2 separate regions of the Homo sapiens genome follow, and region 2 is linked to region 1. The links come from fine-mapping of genetic effects on gene expression. A gene starts in region 1. The other region holds a variant in brackets. All regions are shown on one strand. Distances are from middle to middle. Region 1 holds the start of FOSL2 (FOS like 2, AP-1 transcription factor subunit). Region 2 has its middle 26 kb from the start of PLB1.

Evidence for each region. PIP is the estimated chance that this variant, and not a neighbour inherited with it, causes the effect. A credible set is the group of variants that fine-mapping cannot tell apart.
Region 2: its variant is the best candidate, but not a certain one, in a credible set for the expression of FOSL2 in whole blood (TOPMed, PIP 0.80).

What each region holds. Positions count from the first base shown.
Region 1 is chr2:28,390,309-28,395,670 of GRCh38, reverse strand. FOSL2 (FOS like 2, AP-1 transcription factor subunit) reads right to left here and starts at 2,813. Exons shown (of 4, transcript NM_005253.4): 1 at 1,849-2,813. The coding sequence starts at 1,950. It overlaps FOSL2-AS1 (FOSL2 antisense RNA 1), which reads left to right and starts at 999. Exons shown (of 2, transcript NR_103831.1): 1 at 999-1,123. RefSeq lists enhancers at 695-1,195, 1,196-1,696, 1,852-2,783 and silencers at 1,814-1,990, 2,477-3,596, 5,144-5,213.
Region 2 is chr2:28,467,323-28,472,684 of GRCh38, reverse strand. No RefSeq gene overlaps it. Among named protein-coding and RNA genes, the nearest start is that of PLB1, 26 kb to the left of the region's middle. The variant G/T (reference allele first, on the strand shown) is at 2,547.

The DNA of each region.
Region 1 (5,362 bases):
CATGTGTTACAGCATGCTAGGAATTAGCCAACAGCTGCTTTTTGCTTCGGTAATGAGGCCCTATTACACTCTGCTGGACTGAGTTCTCTTCCTTCTTCCTAGCACTGGTTTCCTGTCTGATTTTCTTCCAAAACCGGGAATTGCCTCCGCTCACATCCTGGGCTCAAAGCCCTAGTGACACAGATTATTCAGTTGGGGCACTGATGTCCGGTCTGACTTCCCTCCAGGCCCCAGGGTCTATGCTAAACCAGGCAGTGAGATTGTAATACTCCAATGATCACTGCTAAAGACACATTAGGGAAAAGAACAGAGAAGAAATCAAAAGATCCCTTCCTGATTTCAGGGAGGAGGAGACAGACAGGCGTTTGGGGTTTGTCGAACGGGAGACGGAGGGAGTGGGTACAGACTTCAACCTATTCCCTCATTATGTTTACATTCAACACAAACCACTAGCGGGGCTGGGAAGCAAACATAATCAACAACTTTTCGGATTTTAAACTCATCACCTTGGTGCTCATTACGAAGGGTGCATTGACTGCACCCTCAATGAACAGACTAGGCTGTCTCTACTGTGGGTGCTTATAGGAGCACCATGGGAGGCAGAGGGAAGACAGAAAAGCCATTTTGGGGACTCACCAGGTATAGGGAATCACTTTGGAACAAGGGACCCCCCCATCAGATCCAAAAGAGAGCCACGTTCCAAAATTCTTTCCAGCTGAGTCCACCCCTCCCTGGAAGCCCACCCTAGCCCCTTCTAGAGGCCAAGGCCACCGCCTTATGGAGCATGAGCATCCCTTGCTGCAGCCAACTATGCTAGACTCCACAGATGCTGACCACGGTGGGCTTCATGTTGTATTGGGCCTGCGTTAACCCAGCTCTCTCTCGAGACAGAGCGGGTGGGGGAGCTGCAGCAGAGGGCAGACACGCCATCAGCACCCCCCCGCCAACAGCACCTTCCTGGTATTTATAAACACAGAGATCACACGCACAATCCCTCCAGTGCAAACCAGTCCGGCTGCTTTAGAAACAAGTTGTTTTCTGCTTCCAGAACCACCCAGGAGCCTGCGTGATGTCTCTTCCCCCACCCGACCCCCTCTTCCCTCTGCCGGTCTCCTTGCTCCAGGTACCCCCAGACCCTCAAGGTGCTCCTTCGTTCCTGGGGGGCAGTGCAGCCTCCTGTCCGTGATCCTTACAGAAGACGGGTCGGCGGGGGGGCAGGCAGGCAGGCAGGGGGCACACAGGCGGCATGAGCCAACCAAGGCTGGCTTCTTCCTTCCTGACCTTCGCACCTGATTCCCAGAGCGGCAGCCCTCGCCCTCGCTCCAGATTACTTGAAGGAGTCCAACCATGTTTCTGGGTCCCCAACCCCTTTCAGAAAGGAGTTATGACTGATGGAGAACGGGGAGGAGAGAGAGAGGGCTTTCCTGAAGGAATAGGGTCCCAGGATGTCGAGAGGTGCCAGTGGGTGCAAAGATTTTCTTGTCTGTCCACCACCCAGAGAGAAGACGCGGGGCAGGGGTGGGGGGGGGGGGGCAGACACTGGGGAGGGGGAGTAGTTCTTGGAAGGAGGTAACAGGCTCCTGGTAGGGGGCCTACAATTCCAGGAGTCTATCTGGGTAAAATATAACGTGAGAGGAAAAGGGCATGTTGTCTCTTCAAGCCCACTCTCCAATCCCCTAGTTTAAAAGGGGGTGGGGGGGAAGGGGAGGACGAAAATCCAGAACTTACAACGGTGGCCCGTAGGTATTTTCTCGCCAAGAAAAAGAAAAGAAAGCAAAAGAGGCAGTGGCGGCGAGAAGAGGGCAGGGGTCCGCCCGCGCCGCCAGGTGCACCGGGGCCCGCACCTACCTGCTGGCCGCCGCCGCCGCTGGAGTAGGACTCGGCGTGCGCAGGAGAGCCGCTGCTGCCCCGGGACGAGGTGTCAAAGTTCCCGGGATAATCCTGGTACATGATCCGCGGTGGGGGCCGGAGAGGAAACAGGGTGTTTTTCTTCCCCCGCCCTCGCCGCGGCCGCGCACCGGCTGCTGCGCGCTCGTTCGTCCGCCGGCCGCGCCGCGGGCTCTGGGCTTCGCTCCTGGGTTTCTCCCCCACCGCGGAGGGCGAGGACAGGGAGGCGGCGACACCTCAGGAACAGCGTCCCCCGAGCGTCCCTTACAGCACTTCTTTCCGGCTCTGCGAGCGCCGCGGGACCAGTTGTCCACCCGATCCCTCCCTCTAAAAAGTCGGCGCGTCTCTCGGTCCCTCCCCTGCGCGCGCCCTCCCGCCCCCGCGCGCAGCCGGAGCTCAGCGGGGACCCACGGCCCAATCAAAAATTGGAAATTAAAAAAAAGATTAGGAGCCCAGCGAGCCTGGCCTGCCAGCCCTGGGGACCCCCGATTTCAGACAGGGCCAAAAAGGCGGAAAGAAAAGCTGTCCGCTGGGAGAAACTTCTGTTTCTTCCTTTTAGAAAAGGAGCCGGAGAATAAACTTCCCGTGGCCGACTCGCCGCCCGAGTTTCGGGGCGGCTCGGATACTTGACTAGGAGAAGGCGGCGTGCGCCCGTCCCGCGGCCCCGAGCGCGCCAGGGGGACAGCGGCTCGTGGGGCTCAAGTAGAGCTGGCGCTGAGAGGGACGCGGCCCCGCTCCCCGCTCCGGCGCCCAGACCCGCACCCCTTCCCCGGAGCCCGCTCCCGGACGGGCCCGCCTCGCCCGGCCGCGCCTCTCCCTCTCTCTCTCTCTCTCTCTCCCTCTTTCTGTCCCCGCCGAGCGCCGCTCGTTCGCTCGCTCGCTGGTTCGCTCGGAGCCCTAGCGCTCTGCCCGAGATGAGTCACTACAATGGCACGAGTTCAACTCACACTCTTTATTCTCCAGCCCTGTACCATGTGGATTCACTCACGTCAACCCCAGACTCCACCTTGCAGGGAGGAGCGCACGAGGAGGCGGGGGGAGGAGGCCGCGGAGGAGGAAGAGGCGCGGGAGGGGAGGAGGCGGGCGCAGCTCTCCCCTCCCAGCCCCGGCTCCCGGCCGCGCTGACGCCAACCGCGCACCCCGCGCGAGGAAGCCAGGCGGTGGCACGGGCGGGAGCGGGCGCCACGCACGGTTCGGAGGCGCCGAGGCAGCCCCGGCCCTCCCCAGTCCCCCGCTCACCCCCCGGGCCCAGCGCCCTTGGTCTGTTCCATTGGCGCACGTTGCCAAAGATGGTCATTTGCGTTAGAGGACGCGAGTGCGGGTTTCCTCGCTTTCGGGTGACGTGGAGGGAGAGGGATTCCCTCGCCCGCTCCCGAGTGCGCTGCGGCCTCTCCCCCGCCCTGGGAAGGGGCTCGGGGCGGGGCCCCGAGAGCGGCCGCGCGGGTCTCGCCTCCGGATTTTAGAAAATAATCACAGCCCTGACGGCGAGACGGGCGGTTCGGTGCGGCGCCACCGGGAGGCCGGGAGCCGGGCGCGCAGAGCCGCTCGCAGGGAGGGCGCGGCTGCGCGCGGTCGTAGGCGCCCTCCGCGGCGCCGCCGAGTGCAGCGGGCGCCCCGGGCGCGCAGGGTGCCCGCGCCGCCCTGCGGCCGGGTGTTGGCGGGGCACGGCGCCGGGCGGGGCTGGCCTGCCTATTTTTCCCTCCGTGGCGGTCTGCCTACCGGTTCCCTTTTTGTTTTTTGTTTTTCATGTTTTCGGTCCTACAGTTAATTCGTTAGGAGTAGCCTTGAAGATGAAATTAACCAGTCAAGACATTCCGGCCGCCCTATACGCCGGGCAATTAGGACGCATCTAATAAGAGTAATCGGGCGTTTATAAGCAAACTCCAGACTGTTACGAATTAAAAAAAAAAAAAAAAAGCCAGCGAGAGGGTGTGCCCCAACGTTGTCGTCTTCAGCTGTTTTGGAGCGAAGTTCAGGGCGCGGGTTGCCGGACATTTGGGTCCTCCTCCCTCGCTGGGCGGGGCTGGGAGGGGCGCGGCGCAGGGTACAGAGCACAGACCTTAGAGCAGGAACGCCCGGCTACGCTATTTACGAGCTGTGAGATCTTGGACGAATTCCTTAACCTCTCTGGGCCTCAGTTTCCTCCTATAAAGTGAAGGAGTTTGGAGACATGACCTTAGGCCCTTCTCTGCTCTGGAGCTCCAATCCTTCCGCTGAGATGATGGTGTGTGTGAATGGAGAAGTACTGTAGCGGAAGTCAGGGAACTTAGGTTTTGGTCCAGGGTCTGTGTTAGCCTCAGTTTACCCAATTCTTAAGTAGCGCCAGCCATCTGTACCCCACAGGGTCCTTATGAGGACCCAATGTTAAGAGGTGTTGAGAGTCCATTGCTGACAACTCGCTGTGCACCGTCACACAACTTCTGTCCTCAGTTTCCTTATCTGCAAAGTGGGGGTGTTGGTAGCAGAGAAAAATAGAGCCGGGAACGCGAAGCTTTCCTGGGGCTCTATATAAAGCGCTGGCATTTCCGGGACGGCTGGCGGCATCTGGCCGCCCCAAGGGCCCCAAGATACGGTAATCCCAAACAATACTCGGGGTCATTGTTTACAGCTATAAAACACATTCTGTCCTGAACGCTATCCCCAAGGACGCGCGCGCGTGCGCGACGAGGCGAGGCCAGCCAGACTCCTCGCACCTCCGCTGCTGCCCGCTGGACAGAGTCCCCAACTCCGCAGGCCCAGGAGAGGGGTGTGGGGCAGGCGGACGCGCGCGCCGGCCGTGGGTGCTTTGCTTTTTTCTTCCCCCTCCCCATCCCTGCGTCCTGGCTTGCCTGGGTGTTTACGCGCCTCTCCCAGCAGGACTGAGTAAATGCAGTCCTTTGACGCAAAACGAATCAGTCCTTCCCCAGCGGCAGCAGCAAAACTCAGAAAACTGGGGGTGGGGGTAGGGACGGGAGGGGCACAGAAGAAATCGTGACATTTTCCCACTCGGTTCTCAGCCCCTCCCCGCGCCACGCGGGCCTCAGGCCGCCCTAGCCAAGTCTTGGGGGCTGCAAAGGGAGGCGCGGCCAAAGCGCCCTGCCTGAGCCCTCCCAGTAGCAACCGCGTGTCGGAGCGGCGCGAACAGACGCACTTTTGGTTTTCCTTTGAGCAGTAGAGGCTGCCCCGCCCTCCCCCACCTGGCGGTCGAAAATCCGGGTGCTTCTGGGTCTCTCCCACACAGTCCTTCCAGTAACGCGGGGGGAAAGAGGCGGGGGAAGGGGAGCGGGAGCTTCCTCCGCGGCCTCCGCAGTCCCGGGCGCGCCCAGCCCCGGCCAGGCGCCGCCGGGAGCGCGCGGGCGAGCGCACCCTCGCGCCCTCGCCCGCCCTCGCCCTGCCAGCTCCCCGGTCCTTTCCTTTCTTGTGGGTTCCCGTAAAGCCCAGCAGCCTGGAGACGTCTGCAGAGCATCACGGAATCTGTGCTGATGCAATTCACTAG
Region 2 (5,362 bases), 77 kb before region 1:
TGCAGGCTGAGGGAGCCAGCTCCGGCCTCGGCCATCCCAGGAAGGGGCTCTCACAGTGCAGCGGCAGGCTGAAGGGCTCCTCAAGCGTGGCCAGAGTGGGCACCAAGGCCAAGGAGGCACCAAGAATGAGCTGAGGGCTGCCAGGGCTGCCAGCACGCTGTCACCTCTCACTGGGACTTTTATTTGTCCATCAGTAAAGAGGAAGAGATCATCACCAAGGTCCCTCCCCTGCTGAGCATCATTCCAGAGCACCATCATGGAGGAGACGTCCCTGCCCCTGTCTTCACTTATATCCTCCCTGGGCCCCTGTCTTCACTTATATCTCACCACATCCCATGGGCATGTTTTGGGGTCACACCCCCAAAGCCACAGGGCCCATGTGTGGGTGGAAGGAAATTCCTATTCATTCAACATTCTGTGAGTGTTGGGCCTTCAGTGAGCCAAACCCATTTTAGGTGTTATGTGGAAGACAAAAAAGAGACAAGATGTGATGCCTGCCCTCAAGGATCTCATCATCTCTGGAGAGATAAGATGAACGTACTCAGAAAATAATAAAGTCTAGAAACATAACAGGAAAGTGCATGGAAATGTACACAGAGGCACCAAGTGCAAGTGGGACTCTGGGGGCAGCTGCCTGGGGAGGGGAGATTGGAGGAGGCCTTGAAAGGGTGATGTGCCCTTGCTGGAGGAGCTGGGGCAGCGGCATGGAGCTCAGGTATGACAAGATGGGTATGGGGTTGGCCTGGCATGTCTGACCAGGTGGGGTGGGGCTTCCCAGAGATGGGGTGACACAGGTGTGGCTGCTTCATTCCATCCAGGCCCACAGACCTGGGCCCAGGACCAGCCAGCACCACAGGTCCAAAACCACATTGGACAGATGTCATCCTGTAGGAACATGTTCCCCGAGGAGGGTCCCTTCAGCCCTAACTAGGATGCCTGGATACACAGACACACAGCACATCCTGGCCAGGGCGGGGGCTGTGGGAAGGATCCAAGCATTGCACTGCAGCTTTTATCACACCTCACCCTTCTCCATCCCCACAACCAAATCGATAAAGGGTCATCTCCTACCTGAACCGTTCACAAACTCCTTTCTCCCTCTTCCTGTCACCCTCACAGCTGGCCTCTTGCTCTCTTCGCTGGCATGATGGGTGCCCTTGGGCTTCTCCCTGGGCTCTGCCAGCTGGACCTTCAGCCTGGGACAAGCCTTTCTAGGCAGTTCATCCCTGAGAACACTGTGGTGGCCACATGAGGGAGGCAGATCCTCCCCCGCCCTGGCTCCCGCCCATATCCCAGCAGGCTCCTCCTCCTGCACTCTTCATTGGCTTCTTCCCTTCCTCCCCTCATCACCGGGCTTCTCCTCAGTGCTGTCAGCTTGGGCCTCTTCCCTTCACCCATGATGCCTGTGGCCTTCTGGAAGGGTCACATGCCCCTCTCCCAGACCCTCAGGGCCCTCCATCCTGAGCCCAAGCCCTCCCTCTAGCCTTAACCTGAAAGATTCCCTCAGAGCCCGCCACATAGTTCTAGGGCCACGCTGCCTCTGTGTCTTCGTTCCAGCTGCACCTTCAGCCTGGAAGGCCTTCCTCCTGCCTTCACCTGATAAGTCCCTTCCTGCCCTCCAGATTCACCTCGAACCCCACCTGTCTCAGAGCAAAATGCACATAAGGGTGCACTTTGGAGTCAGAGACCTTGGCCCTTAATTCCTGCTTGGCCACTTTCCAACCATGTGGACCTGGGCAAGTCACTTCACATCCTTCTGAGTCTGTTCAATGAGTAATAAACTTTCCCAGTTCATGAGAGGAGGGGACGATCCCTAGCTCAGAGGTGAGAATGGAATGAATCAGGTATATGGAGTGCTCAGCACAGCACCTGCTCCTGGTCTGTCCTCAGGAGTGCCTGTCATTGGGGTGTGTTTCTGGTCCCCTCTCACCAACTGTGGAGCTTCAGAACATTCTGAGTCTCTCTGACAGCGCCCAAATTGGACGTTCTTTAGAGCTGGCAAACTCCTCTCAATTAGAACTCTTCTTTGCACCCCTTTTGGTCTTATACAAAATGTTTTTGTTGAATGGAAATAAGGATTCCCCTGTCCTGAAAAGAACAAACACTTCCTGTGGCTGGAAGTGCCCAAAGCCAACAAACGCCTCTCTGCCAGCACCTGCCTTCCGACCCTGAGGCCAGCCCAGCACCTCACCTCACACCTCACCCCTGTGTGTTAGACCACTTTGGCCTTTTTCTGGTTCCTCCTGTGCCTGCAGCAGAGTGACCTTGGACAGGGAAAGGCCTGGCTGAGCAGAGATGACCCCCAATAACAGCCAAAGAAGAAGCTGTGCTCGTGCAACTGACAGAACCTGCCCACCAGCCAGGCTGCTCCTCACAGACCTTCTTCTCGTGCTGTGCAAACAGAATGAATGGTGCCAAAGGCCAGGTGGAGTTACACTATTGGCATGGGAAGAGGCCTAAGGTGTTCATATTTTTGTATGCACAGAACAAAAACTTTGAAAGGATATCCTCCCACTTCCTCCTCCTCCTCCTCCTCTTCCTCTCCT[G/T]CTCTCTTCCTCTTTCTTCTCCCCCTCTTCCTCCCCCTCCCCCTCCTCCCTCTCCTCCTCCCCTTCCTCCTCCTCTTTCTCCCCCTCCTCCCCTTCCCCCTCCTCTTCATCCCACTTCCCCTTCTCCCTCCTCCTCCTCTTTCTTCTCCTCCTCCTCCTCCTTCTTCTTCTTCCTCTTCTTCTTCTTCGATTTTCCTGCTTTAGCTCCATTTTTCAGGAAATTATACATTTCCCATTCTATTTGTGGGCAGGGTGTGTAGCTCACCCTTCCCGCAAGGGGGAACATTTTTCTGGCTTTGTTGATTTCTGTATTATTTCTATTTTTTCAAAGAGATGAAGTGTTTTTTTTTAAACAAGTAAAGAAAAAACAAAACATTGAATGAATAAATAAGTAAATAAATACATGGCTTTAGCCCACGCTCTCCCTTTTCAAGAATTTGCTCTTCCATAAATCCACCTTCCCCCAGGGACTTACTCAGTTTAAGCAGTCAGTGATCTTCCAACTAGTCCCCTTGGGATAGAAAACTGAAGAATTGAGGCCCTGTGGGGGTGGCTGTGGAAATCACACAGCCAGGGCTGTCCCAGTTCCCTGCCATCACTATGACTAAGGCAATGCCTGCTGGCCAGTATCCAGCCAAAATCCCTCCAAGGATGGGGAGAGAAGAGAAGCCTCTCTTTCCAGCACACCCAGAGTGGCCCTGATTGGCTAGGCCAGGGGCACTGGATCAGCATCTCCCAGGCTCAGAGAGTTTCCTTCCTAAGGCCCCAGGGTTCTCTCCCACCAGCTGACCTCAGAGGATCTGCCTTCATCTCTTAGAGATGTGAGAAATCATGGTCCCCAGCAAGCAGGAGGCAGGTTCCTGAGGCTGCTCAGGGCCACTGCACAGCTGACACCTCCTTCCCAGCAGCCTTCCAGCTCCACCTGCAAAGGAACGTGTGAGAACGGGGTCCAAACCGTCCCATCATGCCTGTCCTTCCCCCAGGACAGTAGGTGTCTACTCACAGAAGTCCACACAACTCAAAGCAAAGAGAACCCACTCAAGGCGGTGAGCAGAGTCTCTCCTTATCCAGCCCTCTTCCTAAGAGAAGAACTAAATGACCAGGCAAATCAGAGGTGTCACCACACACAGTGACAAGGGGAGCTCTTGTCCAGCTGGACTGGGCCTCACTTGAAGGCTTATTGGGGAATTAGTTAATCAGCAGTCCAGCAGCCTCCCGGAGCCCCCAGACAAATGGAAAGGACATTTCTGGGGTTCATCTCCCAGCCCCCTTTCCTGCCCTCTACCCAACCATGCCCTTATGCCTCATACTCCAGTTAGACTAAATGCACCCAGCACTCATCATTTATGAGGCTTTGCATACGGTAATTTCTCAGCAGAGACCACCCCCTTCCCTCCCTCCTCCCCCGCCTGGATAACTCTTACTTCAAATGCAATCCGTGCCCCTGGAAAACCACCCTGCCATTTCCCCTAACTTCCTTGGTGTCCCTCCTCTGGCCAGGCCCACTGGCACCCTGTGCCCCCAGAATAGCCCTGATCCTCAGTCTTTTGTGGATCATAGGTCTGTCTTTGTATAGATGCAGGAGTCCTTGAGAACTTTGCCTTTCTATAGCCCCAGTTGCCAGCACCTAGCAGCGCAGCACTGAGTAGCTGCTCAATAAAAATGTGTTGAAGTGAATAAAGCCATGAATTAGAATGTAGATTAAGACCTAGAGGCCAGGAGAGGTGGCTCATACTTAGAATCCCAATATTTTGGGAGGCCGAGGCAGGAGAATTGCTTGAGAACAGGAGTCCAAGACTAGCCTGGGCAATATGGCGAGACCCCATCTCTACAAAAAAAAAATAGTTGGACTGTGTGCCTGTGGTCCCATCTACTCAGGAGGCTGAAGTGGAAGGATCCCTTGAGCCTGGGAGGTAGTGAGCCATGATCCTGCCACTGCACTCCCGCCTGGGTGACAGAGAAAGACCCTGTCTCAAAAAATGTTTAAAATTTAAAAAATTTAAGAAGACCTAGAATTTAAACTCCTCCCATTGGTACAAGGAAGGAGTGAAATGAAGGCTCCTTCTCCTGACATCCCAAACTACATCTGATAGTCTGTTCTGCCTGTTGGCCAGGCCCCAGACCTCCACCTTCTGACTCTATCCTCTCCTTGCCCTTTGCCTCCATGAAGCTCTTTCTAACCACCCTGGTGTCTGAACCCCCAAGCCCTTGCTGCCTGAGCCCTTCACCTGCCACTCGATTGGTCCTGCTTTGGTTCCTGATTAGATGTGGGCCTGATTCTTCTCCCTACCCAGGGCTGAAAGCTCCAAAAAGGCAGCCAGCCTGGCTTCTGCTCCTTTGCCTCCCCCAAAGGAGAGGTGCGGGGTATGGCCCAAAGTCTGCATTTCATAAATTAGCAAAATGGCTGAGTGAATTGATGAATGGCTTAATTTCCAAGGAGGGTTTCACATTATTACACAGCTCCCTACATCCCTGTGGGACTTGGTGAATCTCTTGTGCCTTCTCCAAAGAACGTGTGCTATGGCACATGGCACATGTAGGCATATTCACACTCCTCTCAGTGTGCATAAGACCCTTTGGGTCCCCTACTACCCCACACCTTCTGAGTGCCCGCTGCTCCCACCCCAGGTTCACATGTTTCTTTCCCAGCCCTACTGTAGAAGAAAGAGCTCAGGGGCTGAGGGCAGGAGCCTGATGTCACCTCAGCTTTGGTCCTGACTTGCTGGGAGGTTTGCCCTCTATATGCCTCACCTTTCTGTATCTATGTATTTTCTTTCTTTCTTTCTTTCTTTTTTTTTTTTTGAGACAGGGTCTTG